2 linked regions of the Homo sapiens genome follow. The protein of the gene in region 1 interacts with the protein of each later gene in a pairwise test. Each region holds a gene or a part of one and is shown in the gene's direction. Other genes may lie near its edges. The genes, in order: THG1L and ELMOD1.

Region 1 (3,824 bases):
ATACATAACTGGCCAGGTGTGATGACTCACGCCTGTAATCCCAGCACTTTGGGAGGCTGAGGCAGGCAGATGACTTGAGGTCAGAAGTTTGAGACTAGCCTGGCCAACATGGTGAAACCCCATCTCTACTGAAAATACAAAAATTAGCTGGGCGTAGTGGCCTGCACCTGTAATCCCAGCTACTCGGGAGTCTGAGGCAGGAGAATCACTTGAACCCAGGAGGCAGAAGTTGCAGTGAGCCAAGATGGTGCCATTGCACTCCAGCCCAGGCAACAGAGCAAGACTCTGTCCTAAAAAAAGAAAAAAAAATACAGAACCAAGGTATTAAAATAGTGTTTCTTAGCCAAATGCATTTTATCTCCTGGCTTTCTGGGCAGTTTGTGTACTCTCTGTGGTACCCACAGGTCTTATCATGGTGTTGAACTAATTCCGTGTATTTTTCTTTTTCTTACTCCACCCAATGTGCGTTACATTTTCAAGTAAGTTCATGACTCACGTGGCCTCCCAGTTTGCCTCCAGCTATGTGTTTTATTGGCGGGATTACTTTGAGGACCAGCCCCTTCTGTATCCCCCAGGCTTTGACGGAAGAGTCGTGGTGTATCCCAGCAACCAGACTTTAAAGGACTACCTCAGCTGGCGACAAGCAGATTGTGAGTGGCACCAAATAAACACATGTAGTTAAACCACCAATTCCATGTCTTACAGGTGTTGATCTGATACAGGATTGGCTCACATATACTTTGTTTCAACATATACGTTGTACAGAATGCAGTATTTAAATATTTTTTCAATTAGTTAAAAGTATTTGAAAAATTAAATTTTACGTAAAAACTCCTTATCTCTATTTTTTTTTTTTTTTAAGACAGAGTTTCGCTCTTGTTGCCCAGGCTGGAATGCAGTGGTGTCATCTTGGCTCACTGCAACCTCCACCTCCTGGGTTCATGGGATTCTTCTGCCTCAGCCTCCCGAGTAGCTGGGATTACAGGCATGTGCCACCACGCCCGGCTGATTCTGTATTTTTTAGTAGAAATGGGGTTTCTCCATGTTGGTCAGGCTGGTCTTGAACTCCTGACCTCAGGTGATCCACCCGCCTTGGCCTCCCAAAGTGCTGGGATTATAGGCGTGAGCCACCACGCCCAGCCGCCTTATCTCTATTTTTTAAAAAAATCAGATGTGGCAATACTGGATCTGCATTCTTACTTAGTACTAGACAAAGCCTGTTCAGTGGCAGCTACCTTTACACACACACACACACACAAATGCCAGTGTGCCATAGTCTCTGCCATTCCCTGTTGTTCCTCTGGGGTCACCCACTGCTTTACACATTTATGTTCATGCTGGCCTCAGTGGGTATTTGAATTGTGACCCTTGCCTTATGTGACTGTGATGATGTTTGTGAGGCTTTTACTTGCTTGTTCTAGTTTGAATTTTCCAGAAGAACTGGAAAAGAGATTGAAATAATATAAATCAAATAACTTCTAAAGTATTCCTAGGATTAACACACAAGTTAACAGATTTGTATAATGTGTAACTGAAATGACCAAATAAAACTGTTGTTAGGGATGAAGTTTTTTCCCTACTGCTCCTTCCCTCCATGTTCCGTGTGTAGGACTTCGGTCAAGTCACTGAATGTCTCTGAGATCTCTTTACTATGAAAGAGGAGAGGGTCAGGGCTCTAGTATTCCTTGAAGAATGAATATTCAATAAAGATTTTATGTATATAAACATTACTATTTTGTTCTCCTCACAGGTCACATCAATAATCTTTATAATACAGTTTTCTGGGCACTTATACAACAATCTGGACTAACACCAGTACAAGCCCAAGGGAGATTACAGGTATAAAGATCTTACTACATTAATACTTAACTGGGGACAGTTCGCTGTAGGCTCTCCCATAACTTTTTTTTTGTTAAATTTACATTTCTTTCTTTTAAGATCCCTGTACAGCTTTGTTTTGAAAGGATATAAAAATCATAATAGGAGCAGCTCTGCTGCCTGCTTGGTCTGTAATCCTGGATGAATTACTGCTTCTCCCTGAGCCTTTGTGTTCTTAGTGGAAAATGGAATTGACGGCACTGGCTCTGCATTCCCACGTGCTAACACTTGCCTGAAGCCGTGTATGACTGTGTATGACTGCCGTCTTCAGCACTGACTTTTTTTTTTTTTTTTGAGACACAGTTTCACTCTGTTGCCCAGGCTGCAGTACAGTGGTGTGATCTCAGCTGATTGCAACCTCCACCTCCTGTGCTCAAGCGATTCTCGTGCCTCAGCCTCCCAAGTAGCTGGGATTACAGGTGCATGCCACCACACCCAGCTAATTTTTGTATTTTTAGTAGAGACAGGGTTTCACCCCGTTGGCCAGGCTGGTCTTGAACTCCTGACCTGAAGTGATCTGCCTGCCTGGGCCTCCCAGAGTGCTGGGATTACAGGCGTGAGCCAGTGAGCCACCACACCTGGCCAGCACTGAATTTTTGTCAGTCCCACCACGCCTCTTCCCTCATTGCCATTTTCCCTGCTGGGCACCTGTAGTTTCTTGGGTTTATGACCTCTGTGTATAGGAAGAGTTCGTGCTGAGTTTGTTACTTTCATAAATGTCATAATAACTACTCACATCATGCTTCTGTGTAATTTTATCCTTTCTGCCTCAGTTCTTTATAGGTAAAATGTAGAAAATAGTAGTTTCTACCTCATAGGTTTATGGTGAGAATTAAATGGCATGATGCACGTAAAACACAGAATCGTATGAAGCACATTGTAAGTGCTTAATAAATACTGGTTTTTGTTATAACAGTGCTACTTGTAGGATGACTAACTGTGAAGTGAGGTAATGTGTTGTAACAGATCTTTTATTTGTATTTTATTTTATCTATTTATTTATTTTTTGAGATGGGTTCTTGCTATTTTCCCCAGGCTGGTCTTGAACTCCTGGGCTCCAGCAGTCCGCCCACCTCAGCCTCCCAAGTAGCTGGGATTACAGGTGCATGCCACTGTGCCCAGCTGTAACAGTTACTAATACAATGCCTGGTACATTATGTTTGCTCAATAAATGGTTGTCATTTTTAATAATAGTAATGATAGAGATTTTTATATAGCAATAATAGGAAAACTGGGGCCTGGTGTGGTGGTTCACGCATGTAATCCCAGCACTCTGAGGAGGCCAAGGTAGGTGGATCACCTGACGTCAGGAGTTCAAGACCAGCCTGGCCAACATGGTGAGACCGCTTCTCTACAAAAATTAGCTGGGTGTGCTGGCACACACCTGTAATCCCAGCGACTCAGGAGGCTGAGGCATGAGAATCGCTTGAACCTGGGAGGTGGCAGTTGCAGTGAGCTGAGATTGCACCACTGCACTCCAACCTGGGCAACAGAGTGAGACTTTGTCTAAAAAAAAAAAAGGCATACTGGTAGGTATATCCAGGTTTGGAAGAGTCAAGTTCAGATTTCAATTCTTCGTAGAAGAATAAGGACAACCTTTTAACCTTGGGGAATTTATATAACCTTTCTAAGTTTTACTGGACCAAATACATAATATGTATTCAGTTAGTATTAATTCTCCCCACTCCCTTTCAGTCTTGACTTGTGAAGCCAGTGTTTGGTATAGGAGAGAATTTTATCTAAGTAAGATCATAATTGCCCTTAAGATGAAAATTTACTAATAACTATAAGATGTTTGATAAAATCCTTCCACTTCTTGATTGTGGAAATTTAGGTTGTGGGTCGAATGGATAGTAGCACTAGGGGAGAAAGAAGACATGCAGAGCTTTTAATATCTATTTTTATTTTCTCAGGGAACTCTTGCAGCAGACAAGAATGAGATTTTG
Region 2 (3,824 bases), on another chromosome or scaffold:
ACTATTAAAATTTTTGTTTTATTTTTTAAATGAAAAGTGGATTATCCCATACATATTTCTTTTTAACTTTTTTCTACTTGATAAACATATCATGGATATTTTCATGTTATTAGATATTCTAGGACATAATCTTGTTGCCTGCAAAGTATTCCATTATGTTATCTCAGTGCAGCAGCTTGGTTGTTTTGTATGGTTTCTTTCCATTTCCTTTGCATTTATAAGATATAAACTCCATGCCTTTGTGCAAATCAGACTGTTCGAGTTTTTATTTTTAACACAAGGCTGTTGAAGCTATTGGAACCAGAGCAATTTAAGGAAAGGAACACGGTCAAGGTTTTGATTCTTTTTCAGGGATGGATCACATTGTAGAGGCTACTAGTTAACTACTCCAGTATATCTGAGTGACCATGCATCACCTTATTTTAGAACTGGAAGGAATTAGTGAACTTTTGAGAATAAAGAAAAATCTTTTCCAGATGACAACAAAAGGAAGTAATATAAATAATTCTGCCTCCTGGGGATGTACAGTATAAAGAGAAAATAGGTTGACTATATAAGTTCCCGGATAATAAGTCCTCTTTACCACTAAAGCTTAAGTCATTTGAAATTCTGAACCGTACCATGAAATAGTAGGCACTCACATTTTTAAAATTAAAAGTCATCATAAAAGATGGACTTACATGGGCCACAGATGTGTGAATAAGCACATGACTGGTGACAATATAGTTCATCATTTGTTGCGGTATTGCTGGAGTGAGGTAGGGTGTACAGTAAAGAAAACTTTCTTTAGCAAGAGCCAAGAACAAACTTCTCAAGAGGAGTTTTTGAAACATTTAAATCACGGAAGGTCGTCACGTCTAGGAAAATCAAAGGTCAAGGGTGCTTGTTCAGTGAACTGATGAGAAGGGCTTCTGACAAGGCCAGGGAATGTTAGGATAGGTCAGCAGAAAAGGCAGGTGGCCACAACCAAGTCCTCAAGGAGGTCTGCAATGCCTAAGGGAAAGCAGAGGGAAAGAGGAAAGAATGGGAGCAAGGGAAGGAATCAAACAGTGGGATTGGTCGAGGGTGAGGAGGACACTAGGGAGGGGCTGAAAATGGACAAGGGCAAGCTGAGAGGCTGTTCATGGAGGCAAAAGAGGAGAGCATGTTCTTCCCCCACGTCAAAGGGAGGGCTGACTCCTAAAACACAAGCAGTATTAAAGGATTCTGTTTTCAAGGTACTCATTTACTTCCAAGATGGTTTTAGGCAAAGGAGGGAAAAGAAAAGATTCTAATGCTTCATCCTCAGTTTGTTGGAATATCAGATTTACTAGAATAGAAAATTCTGGAGTTTCTTACAGTCATAGTAAGTGTAGCTACTGCAAATAAAGTAGCATGGGACTAGAAACATATGTTAAGTATAAGGTGATTTTTCTAACCCCTGATTTTCTCCTGGGCTTCTTTTCTTGCTGGTGGTGGCTGCTTTCTCTTCTCTTCCAGAGTTCTATTGGAAGGGTGCTGTGTTTTGTTTTTCACAGAATGTTGATCCAGGTATGCCTGTATTTTTACTGTAAATTTCTGTGGCGCTGCCTGAAATTTGTAATGAGGAAGCTAACTGGAAGATGTGAACTACAACGGATCTGTTATAATACCAAGCCGGGAGCTTCTAGAACCATGAAAATCGGTAAGCCTGAGACAAAGAAGTAAGCAAAAGGTAGAGTTGGTATGATGGAAGATACGATGTTGTCTTTCAGTGTAGTAATTCTAAACCATGTGTAAAGGATAATCTTTGAATGACTGTTTTTGTTGCTGCTTTCACAGAAACATCACTGAGGGATTCTAAAAGTAAGGTAAGTAAAATTATTTTTCAGCAGCTTTTTTTTCACTTGGAAGCTTACCTTTATCATAAGAAGTAAAAATTCTAAGAAACCAAAATATACCACTGGCTAGGAAAACTACTGCCAACTGAGAAGAAATAATCATTTGCCCATTACAAACCACTGTACTATTTACATGAGAACAGCCACTGTATGTGAATTTCTAGGCAGTTTGTGAAGTACTTATTACTTCATTGTCAAATGAACCCTTTCTTATACCTCTTCCCAAATCATAAAATAAATATTCCTTGAACATAGTAACAGTATTAACTCCCTACTATTTCCTCAATATCCAAATCATTTTTAACATTATACTTAAGATTTTTCAATAACATCAAAGAAGCCACTATGCTAGCTTTTGTAGCATAGTGGAGCATCCATATAAGAAAGAAAACCTATTTTCTTTTTCAAGATTCTTGATAATTTTATCTTATTAATTTTGACATCCTGAAGACTATCTCCCTCATGTGCCTCACTCTTTAGTCATAAACATAATACCCCTTAACAATAGAAACTATGTTGGGCGAGGAAATGAAAATATTACATTTCAATATAGGTAGCTTGAAACAGGAAAATGGTAAGAACAAAACCAAAAAAATTGTATGTGTTTTCCTGATTAAAGTTATCAGGAAAATTGCACTACCCCCCCCCCCATCGTGAAAATGTCAAATTTATTAGAATTCAAGTACGCTAAATCAATTGTTGCTTTTAACTTAAGTCTTCATATAGAAGCTTAAGCAAATGTTTGAAGCCTCTATCCCAGTAGATACTGATTAAGCCTCTGGTGTTAATGAAAAGGAAAGTGATTAAAACATGTTTTCCAGCTGTTGCAGACTTCTGTGAGTGTTCACCCCGACGCTATTGAAAAAACTATAGAAGATATCATGGAACTGAAAAAAATTAATCCTGACGTAAATCCACAGTAAGAATATGTTTCTTATGTCAAAAATACAGAACACAAATCACATGGCCACAGGTTTAGTGTTTCTCTGTCTCCTCTCTTTTTTTTTCTCCCTCTCTCCCTAAAATAATCATCTGCCATGTTTTGACTTTCAGATGAGGAATAAAGAAAAAAAGTACCTTTTTCATGTTTGTAAATGGCAGCAACTTTGTACTTCCTTTGTGGCTTATGCTTCTCAGATGCAAAGAATGTAAGAAATGTGTTGAGTGCCCCGATAGAGAAAGATGAACCCATTCATCAACAATCACTCTATCTGATGCCTATGTTTTACGCTAACAGTAAATGTTCAAATTGTAAATGTGCTTAAGCTGATTCTGTTCCATCTAGAATAGTCCTTCACTTCCTTCATGAATATTACTTTATGACAGGCTGAGAATCTTGGAGACTGTTTCTACCTGCTTGTCAAGAAGACAGGCATGTGTGGGAAGGAGAAATGGTTTTTATATGAAGACTTTAGAACTTCATAATTTATTCCTCTCATCTTGGAAGTATTAAAATGCATTTGGCAATGTTCGTGACATTTAAAATTAGCTTTATATTTTCCACTGGGTACAGCAATTTTTCAGTAAAATTTTGCACTGAGGACACTGGGTAGAATAAATTCCAAATGCAGATATATTTAGAGAAGGTTTTAGGTTGGTAACAATCAAACTGTCTTTTAGATGTTCGTGTCTGAGAACTTTAGATGTTACCTTTGAGAAAGGCTTTTATTAATAATTACAGGAACTGTAGCTGAAGGGAATTTCAGAGCACACTTGCGTAGGTCTATCTCTTGGAAGGATTTTGGATACTAGCTATCTAGGGGCTCATCACAAAACCTCCATTTTTGCCTGGTCTCTATAGCGTTCTTTAGCAGCCGCTTCAGTTCATTAGCTGCCTTTTGCCTATTCAGCTACCAAAGGTTGATTTACTTATATAGTAAAGGTCTTTTTGAAACCTTCTAACATATATTTTATTCCTCTGGGAAGGTGATAAGAAGGCAGTTCATTATAAATAAGATTGAACGA

What was found.
Region 2: the proteins of THG1L (region 1) and ELMOD1 interact in a two-hybrid assay, tested with the Homo sapiens proteins (one large-scale study listed by BioGRID and IntAct).

Annotation. Positions count from the first base shown.
Region 1 is NC_000005.10:157,734,096-157,737,919, forward strand, and holds part of THG1L (probable tRNA(His) guanylyltransferase), read left to right. Parts: intron 1-480; coding exon 481-650; intron 651-1,750; coding exon 1,751-1,839; intron 1,840-3,791; coding exon 3,792-3,824. UniProt on the Homo sapiens protein: Adds a GMP to the 5'-end of tRNA(His) after transcription and RNase P cleavage. This step is essential for proper recognition of the tRNA and for the fidelity of protein synthesis.
Region 2 is NC_000011.10:107,628,900-107,632,723, forward strand, and holds part of ELMOD1 (ELMO domain-containing protein 1), read left to right. Parts: intron 1-1,517; coding exon 1,518-1,663; intron 1,664-1,800; coding exon 1,801-1,829; intron 1,830-2,680; coding exon 2,681-2,778; intron 2,779-3,824. UniProt on the Homo sapiens protein: Acts as a GTPase-activating protein (GAP) toward guanine nucleotide exchange factors like ARL2, ARL3, ARF1 and ARF6, but not for GTPases outside the Arf family.